Regions from separate parts of the Homo sapiens genome. Here region 1 is linked to region 2. The links come from fine-mapping of genetic effects on gene expression. Tissue or cell type: whole blood. Region 2 holds a variant in brackets; the other region holds the start of a gene. All regions are shown on one strand. Distances are from middle to middle.

Region 1 (8,187 bases), 170 kb after region 2:
ATCTACTGCAAAATCCTTTCTACTACTCTCAGCCCCACTAAAACCTTGCAGCATTTCATCTTACAGAGAATGAGGTGTAGCATAGCATTATTCTCAGTTGTGGCACAATGGTGCCTCCATTGTCGAAAGAGGTCTCCTAAACATTGTGTTTCCGTATTCATGGTAGAAAGTGCAAGTGTAAAAAGCAATAATTTGTCCTGTACTTTGGAGGGGATGTCTTAGAATGCCTTAGGACACTGGGCCCTAAAACATTGCTAATGTGGTGGTTCCTTGAAACTATTTAGAGGTTATCACTCCCCTCTGGAACACTTGTGTCTTACCAAGGCCTTCAATGAATAGTCACTTTTTGTTCATCTTGTTCAATCTGCATGATGTTATTGATACAGTGAATGAAGGTGATATTCTGCAGGATGTCCAGCTAACTTATATCTCTTCAGAGTATATTGTAATAGACGGCAGGACAGTTAACATAGCCTTGGGGTAAGGTTGTAAATTTATGGCCCATTTAAGAGCAGCCTTAGAAGCACTGTGTTCAGACCATCTCCCAAGAACCTTACTAGGGTGTTAAATCCTCTATCCTAATATGGTGTTTCCTAACCGAGAAACTTTTTTGTTCCACATCCTCGATCACACACCCTCCAAATCCAGTGCTGTGCATAATCTCTCTGCTCCTGATGGTATATGCTGGTTATTAGATTCTGTAGCTGCTCTTGGATATATTCCTTCTTTTTCAGGCCCAACATATCTGTGGCCAGATTTTACTGTTAATTAAGCCTACTTATGGATATAGGTATCAGGAGGGAAGGAGAGGGAAGAGCCTGGGAAAGCTAATGTCTTGCTAGAGAAAAGGCTTTGCATTGCCTTCAAGAAATGAGGGAATGCTAGTCATTAAGAAAAGAGTAAGTCATTTCTAAAGACCAGATCAATTAAAAGAATCGAAGGACTCATAATTTTCAGTGTCATCAACTTTATCCCATGTGTCACGGTCCCATTTCTCAACCAGAGTCCTGACCTTGGCATAGAAAATATGCATTTTTTAAGAGTTTAACCTTCTTTGGAGCTCTGCTACCTTCAGTCCTAGTCTTGGTCCTCAGCTTTCTCTCTCTTCTTATTGCAGGAACTGAGAGACTCAATGCTGCCAAAAAGTTCTTCCAGCCTTCACACTTAGCTTTTAGTTGCCAACTATCTTTTTTTTGGTCTTTTTCTAGAGCATCAATCAAACTTTGAAACTGTCATTCAATTCCTTTATTCTTATAATTAGTATTTCCTCCATATTTTTCAAATTCTTAATTACAGTGAAGGCATTCCTTTCCAGTAGTATATGATTCTAGTTCATCTTGCTGGAAGTTTAAAAAAACTGCCAGGGGCTATCTGTGCTCCACAGATATTAGTGGTTAGGTATTCATTATCTGCCCAACAGTGGGTGACCCAGCTCCAAAATCCATCCACATTGGCCTCCTTTCATCTTTCCTAGCAACAAATGTCACAGGTTGATTTCCCTGGAAAGCAGACTCTGAGATAAAAATCAGCACACTGAAGACTTAATAGACAGTGCTATTTTGGCTATTATTTCTTCCAATATTCTTTCTGTTCCATTCTTGTCTCATCTCTCCCTCTTGGACTCCAACTACATATTAGATCATTTGATATTGCCCTCCAGGTTACTAAAACTGTCATCATACTTTTTTCAATCTCTTCCTGTTCTTCACATTGGATAATTTCTAGTACTCTGCATGCAATTTCACTAATCATTTCTTCTGGAACCTATAATCTGAAGTTTAGATTACCCAGTGAGCATTTCACTCCAGACATTGCACTTTTAGCTTGAAAAGTGACATTTGGCTATGTTTTCAGTCATCTCCATCTCCCTGCTGGTATTCCCTATCTGCTCAGTCTTATGGCTACCCTTTCTTTTAAGACCTTGAATATACTTGTAACAACTTCTTTAAAGTTCTTTTTCTCTTAATCCTAACATCTAGATTGTCTTGAGGTCTATTTTTATATACTGGAGGATTCTGAACACAGCAGTGACACGCTCTAAATTTATGTTTTTGAAAAAGTGCCACTCTAATAGCCGTGTGGTAAATGGAGTATAAAAGTCTATGTAAATGAGGTAAATGGATAAATAGGGATACAAAAGTCAAATATTGGGCACAACTTATGATGAGTTACAGTTAGATGGAAGACGACAGTGGTTTTGTCTTAGGTGGTGGCACTGGTGTGAATGAGAGGAATTTGGTTCTGACCACCAGGTCTTGCTGATAGACTGGACAAGGACAGAAAGAGGAGTAAATTAAAGGATAAACCCCTGGTTATTGTACTCAGTTACTAAAACGGGGTTGCCATTTGCCTAGATATCAACAGGGGAGAGAAAATATTCGAGGACAGAAGAAAACTAAGAGTTCTGTTAGTACATTTAAATGTGAGGTATCTATTGAATATCCAAGTGGAGATGTCGAATAGGCACTTGTGTATGAGTATGGAGTGCAGAGTGAGGGCCTGGATGTTAAAAATTTGGAAGTCAAAGGTATATGGGTGATATTTAAAGCCACAGTCTTAGGATAATAGATGTGAGGACTGAGCTCTGGTATACTTGTATTTATAGAGGTTTGGGGAATGAGAGGAACATAGGAAACGAGCTTGAAGTGAGGTGGAAGGAGAAATAAGAGAGAGTGGTATCCCAAAGACAAAGTGAATATGGTTCAAAATAAAGGGAGTAATTGGTTTGTCAAATGTTGCTGTTAACTGGGAAAGGTGAGAAATAAGCCTTTGTTTTATCAGTCTATTGAGATTTTGGGGTTTGTTTCTGTAGCATATTAATGTATTAATCAATACTGTGTAATATACCTTCTTGATTTTCTTGGAATTTAGATTCTAAAAGTAAGCATTTAACATTAACTAATAAAGCTACTGAGAGTCCTATATGAGAAAATTTTGGGCATTTGGTCCATAATATGATCTTGTCAATTAGAACAGTTATTTTCTACTTGTCATTTGAATATTCATTTATGGGGTCTTACTCACTTTTTCTGGTAACATTTATAAAAATTATCTTAATAATTGTATTTCTGAGGATAATAATTTATCACTGAAATGTGCATTCACCTCCCTTTTGCAGCCCAGTGATGCAGAGGTTGATACACAGTTGATATTCAATAAATGGTAAATGTGCCCATCAAATATCTATTTTATTAATGTTATTTAACATGCTATTACCACAATGATTGCACCATTAAACTAGGTTGTCAAGGACCAATCTCAGACAGCACAATATATATGGAAGTTGATTTCCTTACTGAAGGGTCAGAAACCTAATTTAAAAACATGAAAGGGAAATGAAGTATGTTGACTCACGGCCATGAGGGCCACGGCAGAAGACTGTGTAGATGCCAAGGTCCTCGCTGAGGATGTCTGAAGTCTAGGCCAATCTCTAATCTCCAACCTACTCTGTGTTAGGAGGCTTTACAGGGTGGAAGGAACACTTTTATTAGTCCACCCAAAATAGGTAGGTACCTTTTGGTAATCAGGTCTTGAGGGGGTACACTTATTAGCACAAATCAGCATATCTGCATATAGAAGACCTTGCAATGGAGTGGTATCCGGAAAAAAATATCATTTTGGGTCTGACGGGTTCAGACAACACTTTTAAATGGGATCTCTCAAAGTGTGATGAGAACCAGAAAAAAATGGCTATTTCTAGTAGCTTCGGTACAATTGAGCAAGAAACACCAAAGGATGGTCTTTTCATAACTTTAAAGCAGTGTGGTTCTCAAGTAGGGGGTATATTTGCCCTCTGGGGAATATTTGGCAATGTCTGGAAACATTTTTGATTGCCATAACTAGAGGGAGGAGCGGTCACTAGGCATCTAGCGGGAGTAGAAGCCGGTGATGCTGCTAAATATCCTGCAAATGCACAAGATGCCCCATCCCCAAGAAAGAGAAATGTCCATTCCAGAAGTCAACAGTGTCAGTTGGGAAACCCTGCTTTAAAGGTTATTTTCTTAGAAGAGGACAGCTTTAATACCTAAAATCTAATTTTATGTTTAGGCCCATGCCTATCTTCGCAGGACTCAATTCCAAGGAAATTCTGTTCATAATGCATGCTTTCTAATTCCAGTTAATTATAGCGCCTTACAGTGTGCAGAAGGCAGAGGATTGTTTTATTTGAAAGTGATCCCTTTTACTTACTTAAAAACAGATATCCTTAGTTTCAATATAAAGTTCAGATTTTTGCTTTTAATAGTATTTATATTCCCAAATCCAAGTCCTCCCAGAAATAGGTTGAGATGAAGGGAGGCCAGATATCAAATCCATTCCTAGAGATATTGTGTTCTGTGGGACCGAAAAAAGACAAAACTTGAACCTTGACTGGCCCTCTAAGGATTAAATTCTGCTGCTCTTCTTAGGGTATCTATCGGACTGTCCCTTTGGTTGTAAGATACCACTGCCATCTCGAGGAGGACTGCATGCTTCTGCACAGAGCCAACAGGTAACTCGTCCTGGCGGCTCTGTGTACCCAACCACAACCCTAGACTGCCAAGAACACTGCTCATTCGAAGGCGAGCGAAGCCGCGAAGAGGGCCAGCGTTAGGGGAAGGGTGGTACAAACCCTTGTGTGAGCTGCAGCACCGGGGCAAGAACAACGGGCAGCCCAGGCGGGTCTTGGGTCTGCGAGACCACTAGGCGTTCTGCCGGCAGTCAGAACCGCGGCAGAAAGGGCGCGAGCGGGGAACTGCGGGAACGCAGCGGCCCGGGAAGCTGGAGGGGGCGGACCCGGCCGGCGAGCGCAGGCGCTCCCTGGCTCACGCGCGCACCCCGGCCCCACCACCCACCCTTACGCCGCGGCCCGCCCTCCGGGGCGGGTAAGAGAGCGCGCGAGCAGCGGTCGTCAGGACACGCCCCTTCGCCTCCGCGAGCTGGCGGGCGGGCTGGCATCGCCGGGAGGCGGGGCCGCGGCAGCCGGCTGGGTGCGACTGGGCGGCCTCGGAGCTCGCAGACGCTCGGGGGAACATGGCGGCTGCGGAGCCGGCGGTCCTTGCGCTCCCCAACAGCGGCGCCGGGGGCGCGGGGGCGCCGTCGGGCACAGTCCCGGTGCTCTTCTGTTTCTCAGTCTTCGCGCGACCCTCGTCGGTGCCACACGGGGCGGGCTACGAGCTGCTCATCCAGAAGTTCCTCAGCCTGTACGGCGACCAGATCGACATGCACCGCAAATTCGTGGTGCAGCTGTTCGCCGAGGAGTGGGGCCAGTACGTGGACTTGCCCAAGGGCTTCGCGGTGAGCGAGCGCTGCAAGGTGCGCCTCGTGCCGTTGCAGATCCAGGTGGGTCCTGCGGGAGGCCGCGCGCTTCCCTGTTCCCGAGTCGTCCCCGTCCCCGTCCCTGTCCCCGCCTTCGCCGCGCTCCTCAGGTGCCCCGAGCCGCCCGGGACCCGGGCCCTGCGCGAGTGGCTGAGTCCGAAGGGCTGCGCGTCTTTCGCAAGTTCCGGGGCCGGCTGGGGAATGCCCCTGTCCAAAGGTGATGGTCACCAGCTGTCCCCGGCGGGGGCGTGGGCCTCGTAGCTGGTTTCAGCGCCCGCGAACGCCCCCACGTGTGTGGTCCTCGGTCGCCCGCATCCGCTTTTTATGCCAGGATCAGGTCCCAGCCTCCTGCGTAACCAAAGGGCTGTGCTGTAGTAGCTGTTTTTATTTTGGGGTGATGGGTGATGCAGAATGGGGGGAAATGAGATTGTGGGGAGTATTGGTCTTAGGGTTTGTTCCTAGAGTTGTGTTAACCACTTGCGGAAACGCAAACTTTGGGAGTCAAACCCATTCCCCCCCGCCTTCCCAGGCTCTCAGGTCCTTGGGCTTAAGAGTTCCCTAACCTTAAGCAAATAACCATTTGCTTAGCCTCCTCTTAGTAAAGTGTCTACTGACTTGATTACGTTTTGTCGTCTGCATTGAAAAAGTCATTTGACTCCATGATTGTAATTCCTTCTTGAATACAAATACCCAACTTAAGCTAGACCTTGAGTTCCTGGGCCTGCTGGCTGGGAAAGTTGTTCTACCTGAGGACTACTTAACAGCATTTATTTTAAGCTGTGCTCTCATGCTAGGCGGGTTAATCTTCCGCCCTCTTTAGGATCAGATTGTTCACTGGCGAATTTATATTTTGGAAAGGAAAGAATATAAGGTATAATTTAGGTAGTACACTGTCGATATCATTTCTTTAGCTGAGAAACTGATAAGTCATTTTTTCAGAAGACCAAACTGAAATGTGGGATTCGGGGATAAAAGGTATTTTAATATTTAAGTGTCATTTTCTTTCTTTTTTGTTTTTAGTTTTTATGGGCACATAATAGTTGTACATATTTATAGGAGACGTGATATTTTGATTCAAGCATACAGTGTAGTGATCAAATCAGGGTAATTGGAATATCCATTACCTGAAACATTTATCATTTATTTCTTTGTTCCAAATTCATTTTTGTAGTTATTTTGAAATATACAATAAATTATTGTTAACTATAGTCACGCTATTGTGCTACTGAACACTAGAGCTTATTCCTATTATCTGTGTTTTTTGTACCCATTAACAGTGCCATTTTCTGAGGATTATTCCCTAGTTTTTTTCCGCTGTAGTTGGCAGCTGAATTGATGATGTTTCCTGTCACCCCAACACCTGTGCCAGAAGTGTCCAAAGCAGGTACTTTAGCTTCGATAAAGTTCCTGCATTCAGAGGACAAAGTCAGAGACTGCACTCTCTGCCAGTGGAGAACCTGGAACTGGATACAGTGATCTGATACCCCAGAATCTTACCTGCTGCTCAGATAGGGAATTGCAGTTCTTAGGTGCTTAAGACTCCTCATTTTTATGTCTTCAAGCGTTTTCGTGTCTGACACCTCTCTGCAGCCTTCCTTGTCAGTCCTTTTACGTTACTGCTGCCAGAATACTCAGATGTTGGATGCACCTTTGAGAAGTCCATTTATAAAGGCTAGAATCCAAATACTAACTGCGGAGGTCTGGGACTAAGGATGCAGACTTCTTTATGAAGCATTTCCTGTTACGGCTTGGAGGGAGGCTGGGCTCTTATCTAAGATAATGCTATTCTAAACTAGGCCCCAGCTCTGTAAGAGTCCCCGCCTTCCAAGATAGGATTTTTATATTTGAAAATTTCAGGGCCTTGGTCTGGCAACTCTTAAAAACATTCTAGAAATTAATGAAATGTATGTACCTGAAAACGCTTGTACATTCTCAAAAGGCGTTATATAATTCTGGTCACCTGTAGCTTTTGCAGTGTTTTGCTTGGTATAGGAGATTATGTATAGTTCACTTTTTTTTGGTGAGGTTTAAAATAACAATAGCATTACTCTACTCCCTCTTCAGAAGAAATTTTTCCGCCAACTAGTCTAATAATTCTTAAGCATTAGTTATATTTTTGCATTTATATAGCTTTATATTTTTAATTCTTTAAAAATATTTTCTCTTCTATATTATCTCATTTTAGTAGTTATACTTTGACTTCTTCAGCCTGATGCCTCTCCTAGCTTAGAGGTAGATAAAGGAAGGGGATAGATACATAAATATGCACACACTGTGTATCGTATATACCTTCTGATACCGATTTATGTCTATATGAGAAGAGAGAGATATATATACACACATACATATATATGCATATGTGTGTATAATCTCAGAAAGTCATGATATTTCTCATGACTACTGTACACTATATTCTTTGGAACCTAACAGCATAATCCTAGAGACTTGGATGTTTTATGGCTGTAAGAGACCATACAGTTCATTCCACAACATGTGAGTGGCAGCTTTAAATGCCTGGCACAGTGAATGCAAACTTGGATTCAATTCTTGTTCCTTACCTAATAAATGAACTTTCACTTTGAGGAAGTGCAGAAGAACATAGGGAGGTGGAGGTGAGTAACTTGCTGCAGGTTACATGGCAAGTCTCCGCATATGCCTGGCTAGCTCCTCCACAAATGCGTGTGGAGGAGCTAGCCAGGCATATGCAGAGCGTCACTTACAGCCGAACACAGCACTACTGCTTGCATGTTTAATGAGAATTGAGCAGTCTGGAAAACAAGTCACAAACTTGAGCTCTTGTTTGTTCATTTGTCTTGGTGCTGCTCCTTGTTCTTTGGAATAAATGCTTGTCACTTAGGAAGACTCAAGGTGGCCTATCGGTGAGTCCATGTT
Region 2 (8,187 bases):
CAAGGGCAAATGTTCCAAATAGACATTTCTTCAAAGAATATATACAAACATCCTTTTGTTTAATGCTGGTATTTATCAGGGAAATGCAAATTGAAATCCATGAGATACCACTTCACACCTCCTAGAATGACTATAGTCAAAGAAACCAAAAATAAAAATTTTTAGGGAGGATTTGGAGAAAGTGGAGCCCTCATACACTGATGGTGGGAATATAAAATTTGAAAAACAGTTAGGAAAAGCCTAGAGCTTCTTCAAAACGTTAAACATAGAGTTACCACATGATCTAGCAATTCTACTCCTAGGTATATACCCAAGAAAAATAAAAACATGTCCACACAAACATTTCTAAGTGATTGTTCATAGCAGCAGCATCTATAATAACCCAAAAGTGGAAACAACTTAAATGTCCATCAACTAATAAAATGTGGTAATATCGATATAATGGCATATTACTCCACAATAAAAAGAAATGAAATACTTCTACATGTTGCAACATTATGAACCTTGAAAACATGCTTAGTGAGAGAAAACAGACATAAAGAACCATATATTATAATAATTTCTTTTGTAAGAAAAGTTATACTATTATGTCCTGTTTTGTTGGGTAGTGGTGAAAAGATTGTGGTCAGAGCTAGAATGTCCCATCTTAGGAGAAACTTCCATAACCACCCATAGAAAGTAGCTACCCAATCCCTCTTTAACATGACTTAATTTTAATATTCTACATAAAACCAATCCAAATTTTATTTTTTTAAAAAGTATTTATGTACTTTATTGTCTTAACACTGAAAAGTAATGTATACAAGCAAAGAATTGCCCTTGTTATTCACAGCTGTATCTTTAGGACCAACAGTGGTGCCAGGCAGAGTTGGCCACCTAATAGGTATTCGTCACTAATAAGACATTTATCATAAAACTATGGGAGATTCAAAGATATAAATATTTAACACAGTGACCATTTCTTGGTACTGGTACTTTTTATTAATGTATTTATTAAAATTGATAAGTAAAAATTGAACTTATTTATGGCATATAAGATGATGTTTTGAAATATGTATACATTGTGGAATGACTAAGTCAAGCAAACATATGCGTTACCACACATACTTATTTCTTTGTGATGAGAACACATAAAATCTCTTCTCTTAGTGATTTTCAAATATACAATACATTGTATTAACTGTAGTCATCGTATTGTATTATAGGTACTGGTACTTTGAGTGCCCTATCTTGTGTAATCCTTAGCTCAGCCCTGGGAGGTCAGTAGTATTCTTTCCATTTTTAGAGAAATTAATAGTTCACTTCAGATCACACAGTCTGTACCAGGGCAAGATTCCAGTTAGATGCCATGCTTTAATGATTACACTGTACTATAGCCAGTGCTGAAGCAAGTACTATTGGGATTTAGGAGTGTCAGGGGATGCTTCGAGACAGAGGGATATTTTTAACTAGGTTTTGAATAAGAGGGAGACTTTTGTTCAGGTGGTGGGATGGCATACCATCCAAAGTGTGGGAGGAGGATAGCACAGAGCTTATAGAAAGCAATGAGTGGTTCAATTTGGCAGGAGTCTAAGATGAGCTACATTTGAGAAGAGGTTTTGAGAATGAGGTGAATATTATGATTAATTTGCTCCATTTTGCAGAAATGACTGGACCAATGTTGATGTTTCTTCTTATAAAGGCACTAGTCCCATTTGTGAGGGCTCCACCCCAATTACTTAATTATTTGCCAAAGACCTCACCTCCAAATATCATCACACTGGAGACTAAGCTTCAACCTAGGAATTTGGGGACACATCCTTTATCTCGGTTTCATCTCTCCCACCACATGTCCACTTTAGATCCCTTCTAGATTACAGCAAAAGCCCTGATATTCACCAACCATGCCCATACTTTTCTGTTTCTGTGCCAGGTCTCTTAATACCACTTTTGCCTGGAGCTCCTAGCTTCAGCCATATTGCCTTCTATCAACATTCTGTCTTTCCTGGCTCCTTTGAAACACCATTGGTTAAAGATCTTTCTGAATGCATCTCCCAATAATCAGATGTGCTACTAAATAAGATATGGTGTCTTCTTCATAATTATCAAGGAATCCAATATTTCTAGGTTTTTTTAAAATCAGTTTCTGAGAAAAGCTTCTCCATTATTCTTGTGGTATGCTCTCTTGTTTACATTTTGGTTTTTCTATTTCAGATAATACTGGGGATTTGCTCATGTAGTTCATCTGTATCTATATACTTGTTAAACTCTGCATAGAAACTTTCTGAAGGAAATAATAATGATAATTATTATAGCTAATCATTCCCATTTTCTATGTTATTCAAACATGCCTGTATGATGTACTAAAATTATCTCTATTACTTAGTACTGTACTTATGACAAAGTAGGAGCTCAAATAATTCTAATTTGCTGAAAACTCTACAGTCTAACTGATATGTTGGAAATAATCTACATGTTATGTCTTCATAGGAACTTCATTTATGATCATTCCTTTCTTTCCCTAAATGGTACCTAAAAAAAGATTCCATTTCACTTTTATTGAGCATCTACTCAGTGTAAGACTATTCTTTTTAATGCATGGAATGCAAGAACTGTGATAGTAACTGGCTTCATAGATCTTAGCATCAACTGTAAGGATAAGGCAAGAGTATTTACAGGTAATTGTAGGTAATAAAAACTGCAATTAGAAGCACACAAAATATTCTGTAGAATTCAAAGAAAGGAGAGATCATATCACATTAGAAGTTAAAAGAAAGATTTCATGGAATAGTTGACATATCATTCAGGCAGTGTGGCAGAAACTTCTAGTTGCCCACCTGAATATCCATTTACCCTTTCCTTTTTAGGAACAGAATTCTGATTTTTAGCTGAGCTCATTGATGCGTGAATAGAAAGACTGCATTTCACAGGCTCCCTTAAAGCTGAGTGCAATCATGTGACTAAGCACTGGCCAAAGAAATGTCAACGGAAGTGTTATGTGTGATTTCTGTCAATGTCACTTAGAAGTAGCTGACTTGCAGAGAGAAAGGAGATAAATCTTTTTTTTTTTTTTTTCATCACTATTCTGCCTTTTGTCTGTCTTTTGGCCCACACCCTCAGATATAATGGCTGGAGTTTCACAGACTATCCTGGGTCATGAGGTGACTCGAAGACGGAAAACTTGCCCTAGTCTGATAGAGCAGAAAGACAGAAATTGTGTTCTTATGAAAACATGGAATGAACTTTCTACCTCCAGACTTATTTTACACAATAATGAAATAAACTTCTAACTTATGTAAGCCCCTATTATTCAGAGATATTCTGGTCCATCCCACTAAAACAGATTCTAATCTACAGCCCTGGAGGCTTTCACTAAAGGCAGGCGGAGCAAAGTAAATGGCACACTGTTAGGAAATTTTATAATTTTACCTTTATTCTCATTTTGGTCATTCCTATAAAACCTCTGGCAATATTCCTTGTGGTCCTCTTTCCTTCCACTAACACTTAACCGTCACAACAGGCAGTCTTACTCAGTAATCAAAGATGTGGACTCTCGAGTCAAGACTCTATAGGTTAAGATCCCAGCTTGGCCTCTCATGAGCTGTGTACTTTGAGCAATGATTTAACCTTTCTCATTTCCTCAACTGCAAAATTTATACAGCAGTAAGATCCAGCTCACAGGGTTTTTGTGAAGATTAAATTAGTAAAGGATGTACAGTAAGACCATAGAACAGTAACAGGCTCACAGTAAGTGCTCAGTAAATGTTAGAGAGAAATGTGACTATCAATTCAAGAATGGCTTGTTGAATGTCAGTTATGTGTTAAGCTTTATATTCAGCTTGGGTACAAGGGAGTAAATAAATCACATTCCTTAGCAGTTCACAGTATAGTTCTCTGTGAGAAAAATATATATCTATATTTTGGGGGATGATTTTCTTCTAGCTCCATGTCCTGTTAACCACACCAAGCCAGTCTGAATTATAAAACAGTGTTTTTGTTTTGTTTTGTTTTGTTTTTGAGACAGAGTTTTGCTCTGTCACCTAGGCTGAAGTGCAGTGGTGCA[A/G]TCTTGGCTCACTGCAGTCTCAACCTCCTGGGTTCAAGCAATTCTCATGCCTCAGCCTCCCAAGAAGCTGGGATTATAGGCACCCGCCACCACACCCGGCTAATTTTTGTATTTTTAGAAGAGACAGGGTTTTACCATGTTGCCCAGACTGGTCTCAAACTCCTGAGGTCAAGCAATCCACCCGCCCTGGCCTCTCAAAGTGCTGAGATTACAGGTGTGAGCCACCACACCCAGCCAACAATGTTTAATCATTGGATAAATTATACAATTCAATGCATTCTCCCCTGGCAAGAAGAAATGCCCTGGCATGGTACACAGGAAGATCAAAATGATAATATCATGAGATCTACCCCCACAAAAAATATTTGAGAGACTTCCTTTCAAAAACTTCAAATTAATTATAACTCAGTTTAGGGAGACCTGAAAATGAGTAATGACAAAGTACGGCAACATCAAAAATATCTTATATTACTATAATTTGTGCAAATGCCAAATTAAATGTTATAAGCTATCTGAAAAGAATTTTTGCGCTATGAGAAAGATGACAAAGCAATTTCCACATGGCTTCTACTGCCTGTTCATATGTTTATACTAAAAGATACTTCCTCTATTGTCCACATGGCTTTTACCAACCCCCACTTCCACTTAGAACTATTAGAGGAAGTTGCCAAATTATTATGAGTCAGTTGTTTAGAAATTGAACATTATTATACAGGTAGCCTACCTAACTCACAGTGTGCCTAAATATGGCAATAATAACACTGACTCCAACATTGTACTCTAAGCTCTCTCAGAGGAAAATTCATAGCAGATTCTTACTTGAGATGACAAATTACGTCTCACGGCTGTAATCTCTTCCAACACACTCTCTTCAGTCACTGGGAATAATTACTGGGATATGGACAAAGAGTTCCATCCATCTGGGGTTTGGGTAAAGGACAATAGGAAGAGAAAAAAGGAGTCCCCAGGGGCTCTTGGTTCTGCATCAGCTTCTAATTGCATTTCTTACAGGGCCAGGAGATTGGTCCACATATTTCTAGTTCTACTATCCTGGCCTGTTCTTCTGGCTATGGGTTGTCTCCTCTCCCAGGCCACTGCCCTGTGAAACTACAGTTCTTCTCTAGTCTCCAGTTCCTGAATCAAGTATACAGTCCTTTGGAGCAGTGGTTTTCAACTATTTTTTTTTACATGATCTGCAGCAATAAAAGCATTTGACACCATAATTAAATAAATATGTACCTCTACATAGACATAAGTGAAAGAAAAGTTTTACAGGGCAAAACTCATCCTACTATGTGATATGCACACTCTATTCCATTCTATTAAAAAATGTTTGTTATCATGGCTTACTAAGTCAATTTTATGACTGTTTTATAGATTATACCTCACAGTTTGAAGAACTGTGCTTTAAACATTAAAAAAAACTTTAAAAAAAAGTCTAAAAACTAACATAAACAATTTCAAATCATCTCGAAAATGTCACACTATACTGGACATTTAGTTTATTTTGACGTTTAGGGCTTTGAAACTCCTCACTATGGAAACTTCTCTACCTCATGAAAACTGGAGAGATAAGGGTATGTTTCCTACTGCAAAATTGCCACTGTCCAGACACACTATTTCTCTGGCCCCTAGAAATAAGGGATGAGCATGTGACCCTTTCAGTTTCTTGGTTTGGAGCAAGAATTCATTCTGGCAGCATAAATTAACATTGGCTGCATGGGTAGTGGTACAACAGAGTACACTGTTCATTGTGGAATGGGCCTGGGTGCCACATGTTGCACCCCGTAGCCAGCAAGAAGGATAACAGTATCTGCATCCACATGGTGTTTGGTGGTGTGGTTTTAGCTGTAATCATTGTGTCCAGCCTCCTTTTATCCTTACCTTGCCCATGTCTGATTCTCCAGCCTTTCTAGTAGTTCCCTTTCTTTTTAAATCTGCCACTGTGTAAGTTGGTTTCTCTGGTTTGCAATGACTTGCAATCTATTTCCCTGAGGTTTAACTCAACATTAGGGATTTTTCCTCTGCTTTATGCAAAAGAACACTATCTCAGAGATTCTTTGCAAAAATATTCATTAGAGGCCTGTGAAGGAAAGGATGGGAACATTGAGAGGTGAAAGTTTGATAGGAGAATTGATAATTCAGCTTGCTGGTGAGAGAGTAAGTAGAGAAAGAATCTATCTTGGGATTTTTTCACCTTCCTTTCTTCAACAGGATCCTCATTATATCCCTTCTACTGTCAAAAATCCTGGTTGGGGTCAGGGTCGGGCAACAAAAGACCAATATTCAGTGAGGGAGAAAAGGGAAGGCAGTCATAAGCAATGAAAGAGAAGGGAGCCCTAGTTGTATCATTGGGGAATAAAACTAATTCATTATGGCCACTCCGTTTCACATGCTGGGGGCCCGTCCTGGGTATGTACAAGAAAAGAAATGTGTATGAAGCAAAAATGTGTCTAATGCCATCTGCAGTCATCTAAAGACCAGTGTAAAGAAGCATGTATTTTTCTGCATAAGTATCATTATTATTATCAAGATTATTTAGTATTTGTTAATAGACTGTGAGATCTAGTTTAATTCTTTCCAGTAACAAGCTAGATGGCCAGTGTAAATTTTCGTAGTTGATTCATCCAGTTGGTGCCTTAATTTCTGCACAACTTCTCATCAATAGGCCATAGCAAGGGGTCCTCAAATGCAAAGAAGTAGGTTTGTTGGGGAAAGTGCCCATTAAATTCCATTGTTTTCCTCTTTAGGATATTATGTTTTGACATTTCAACTGTCCTCATTGCACAAGAGTTTTCAGACTAAATGTTTGGTATATAAATCCAATAAGGATATGTTGAAAACTTTAACTCATACTTAAAATGCCACCAGTTTCCCAAATCTGTACTGGATTAACACCCACATGTAAATGTGATGATTCCTTATAACTGCTTCGAAGTTAAGTGAGCACAACTGTGTTCTTGTAGCAAATAAGCACTTGTGAAATATCGAATGAAACAAGCATGAAATACTAGTCAGTTAACAAAAATGCAAAAAAAAATGTTTTTACTACTGACTAGTAAAAATCAGTCTAAATAATTTCATTTAGACTGATTAATTTACCTTACCCAGTGAGCATGTAGATACAATTAGTAAAAATAGAATATGAATATAAATAGCAGTTTTGATGCTTAGAAAAATTTGAAAACGTGATATTTGCCAGCATTAAGCTCATGAATTTTCATTTAAAAATACAATTTTAGAAATTTTTCTTCTCTTTGCTTGCAGTGTGATATTGAGAAATAGATGTAAGGCCCAGATGTTATTCATATAAATTCTTAAGCAGTAGAGATTTTAAACAATATGAGTACATGATTAACAGGTATTGCCTGTGATTTCGGATTTGAACATGATTAAGGCTGGGCTGCCTACATCTGCTGAATTCTGAGATATGAAGGGACAGGATCTTTGGGGCATCATCTAGTTTATCCAATGAAGTATTAATGTGTTGGAAAAAAATATTTCTTGTTCATGGGCCAAACAGAGTCATGTGTCACTTAGCAATGGGGGGTCATTCTGAGAAATGGGTTGTTGGGTGATTTCATCCCTGTGTGAACATCCTAAGAATATGGCTACTAAAGTTAGCTTCCAGAAGGGACAGATAAACTTATTCTCACAAATATTTACATTATCAAGAAGAAAGGGGAAAATACTTATAATTTTTAAAATAAGAAGAGACAGTTTTAATCTTTTATCTAATTGATTTAAAAATTATTGAATTAGCTGGGCATGGTGGCACACAGCCATAGTCCTAGCTACTTGGGAGGCTAAAGTGGGAGGATCGCTTGAGCCCAGGAGTTCAACATTACAGTAAGCTGTGATCACACCACTGCACTCCAGCCTAGGTAACAGAGACACCCTATCTCTAATAATAATAATAATTTGAAGGGTTATCATAGTCAAAACAATGTGAAGATTTTTAATATGTTACTCATTTTTTTATAAATTTCTAAGTGCTACCTTATTTAGGCATGGTAACCTTGAAATATTCACATGTTTAGAGTAAAAAAAAAATGAAAAGTGAAGTGAATTAATTTTTGGAAGAGTCAGAAGTTAACCTTGGGAATGATTTCAGGTGATTAATTACCTGGGTGGCTGTGGCTGAC

The links. PIP is the estimated chance that this variant, and not a neighbour inherited with it, causes the effect.
Region 1: ISOC1 starts here. The variant in region 2 is fine-mapped to the expression of ISOC1 in whole blood (TOPMed, PIP above 0.99).

The regions. Positions count from the first base shown.
Region 1 is chr5:129,089,757-129,097,943 of GRCh38, forward strand. It overlaps ISOC1 (isochorismatase domain containing 1), which reads left to right and starts at 4,993. Exons shown (of 5, transcript NM_016048.2): 1 at 4,993-5,319. The coding sequence starts at 5,011. MIR4633 (microRNA 4633) reads left to right here and starts at 7,932; the gene lies at 7,932-8,010. LOC124901060 (a long non-coding RNA gene) reads right to left here and starts at 7,023. Exons shown (of 2, transcript XR_007058926.1): 1 at 6,793-7,023; 2 at 3,170-5,643. RefSeq lists a silencer at 4,611-5,390.
Region 2 is chr5:128,923,156-128,931,342 of GRCh38, forward strand. The region is part of intron 6 of LOC105379168 (a long non-coding RNA gene); the gene reads left to right. Among named protein-coding and RNA genes, the nearest start is that of SLC27A6, 38 kb to the right of the region's middle. RefSeq lists a silencer at 2,858-3,058. The variant A/G (reference allele first, on the strand shown) is at 4,043.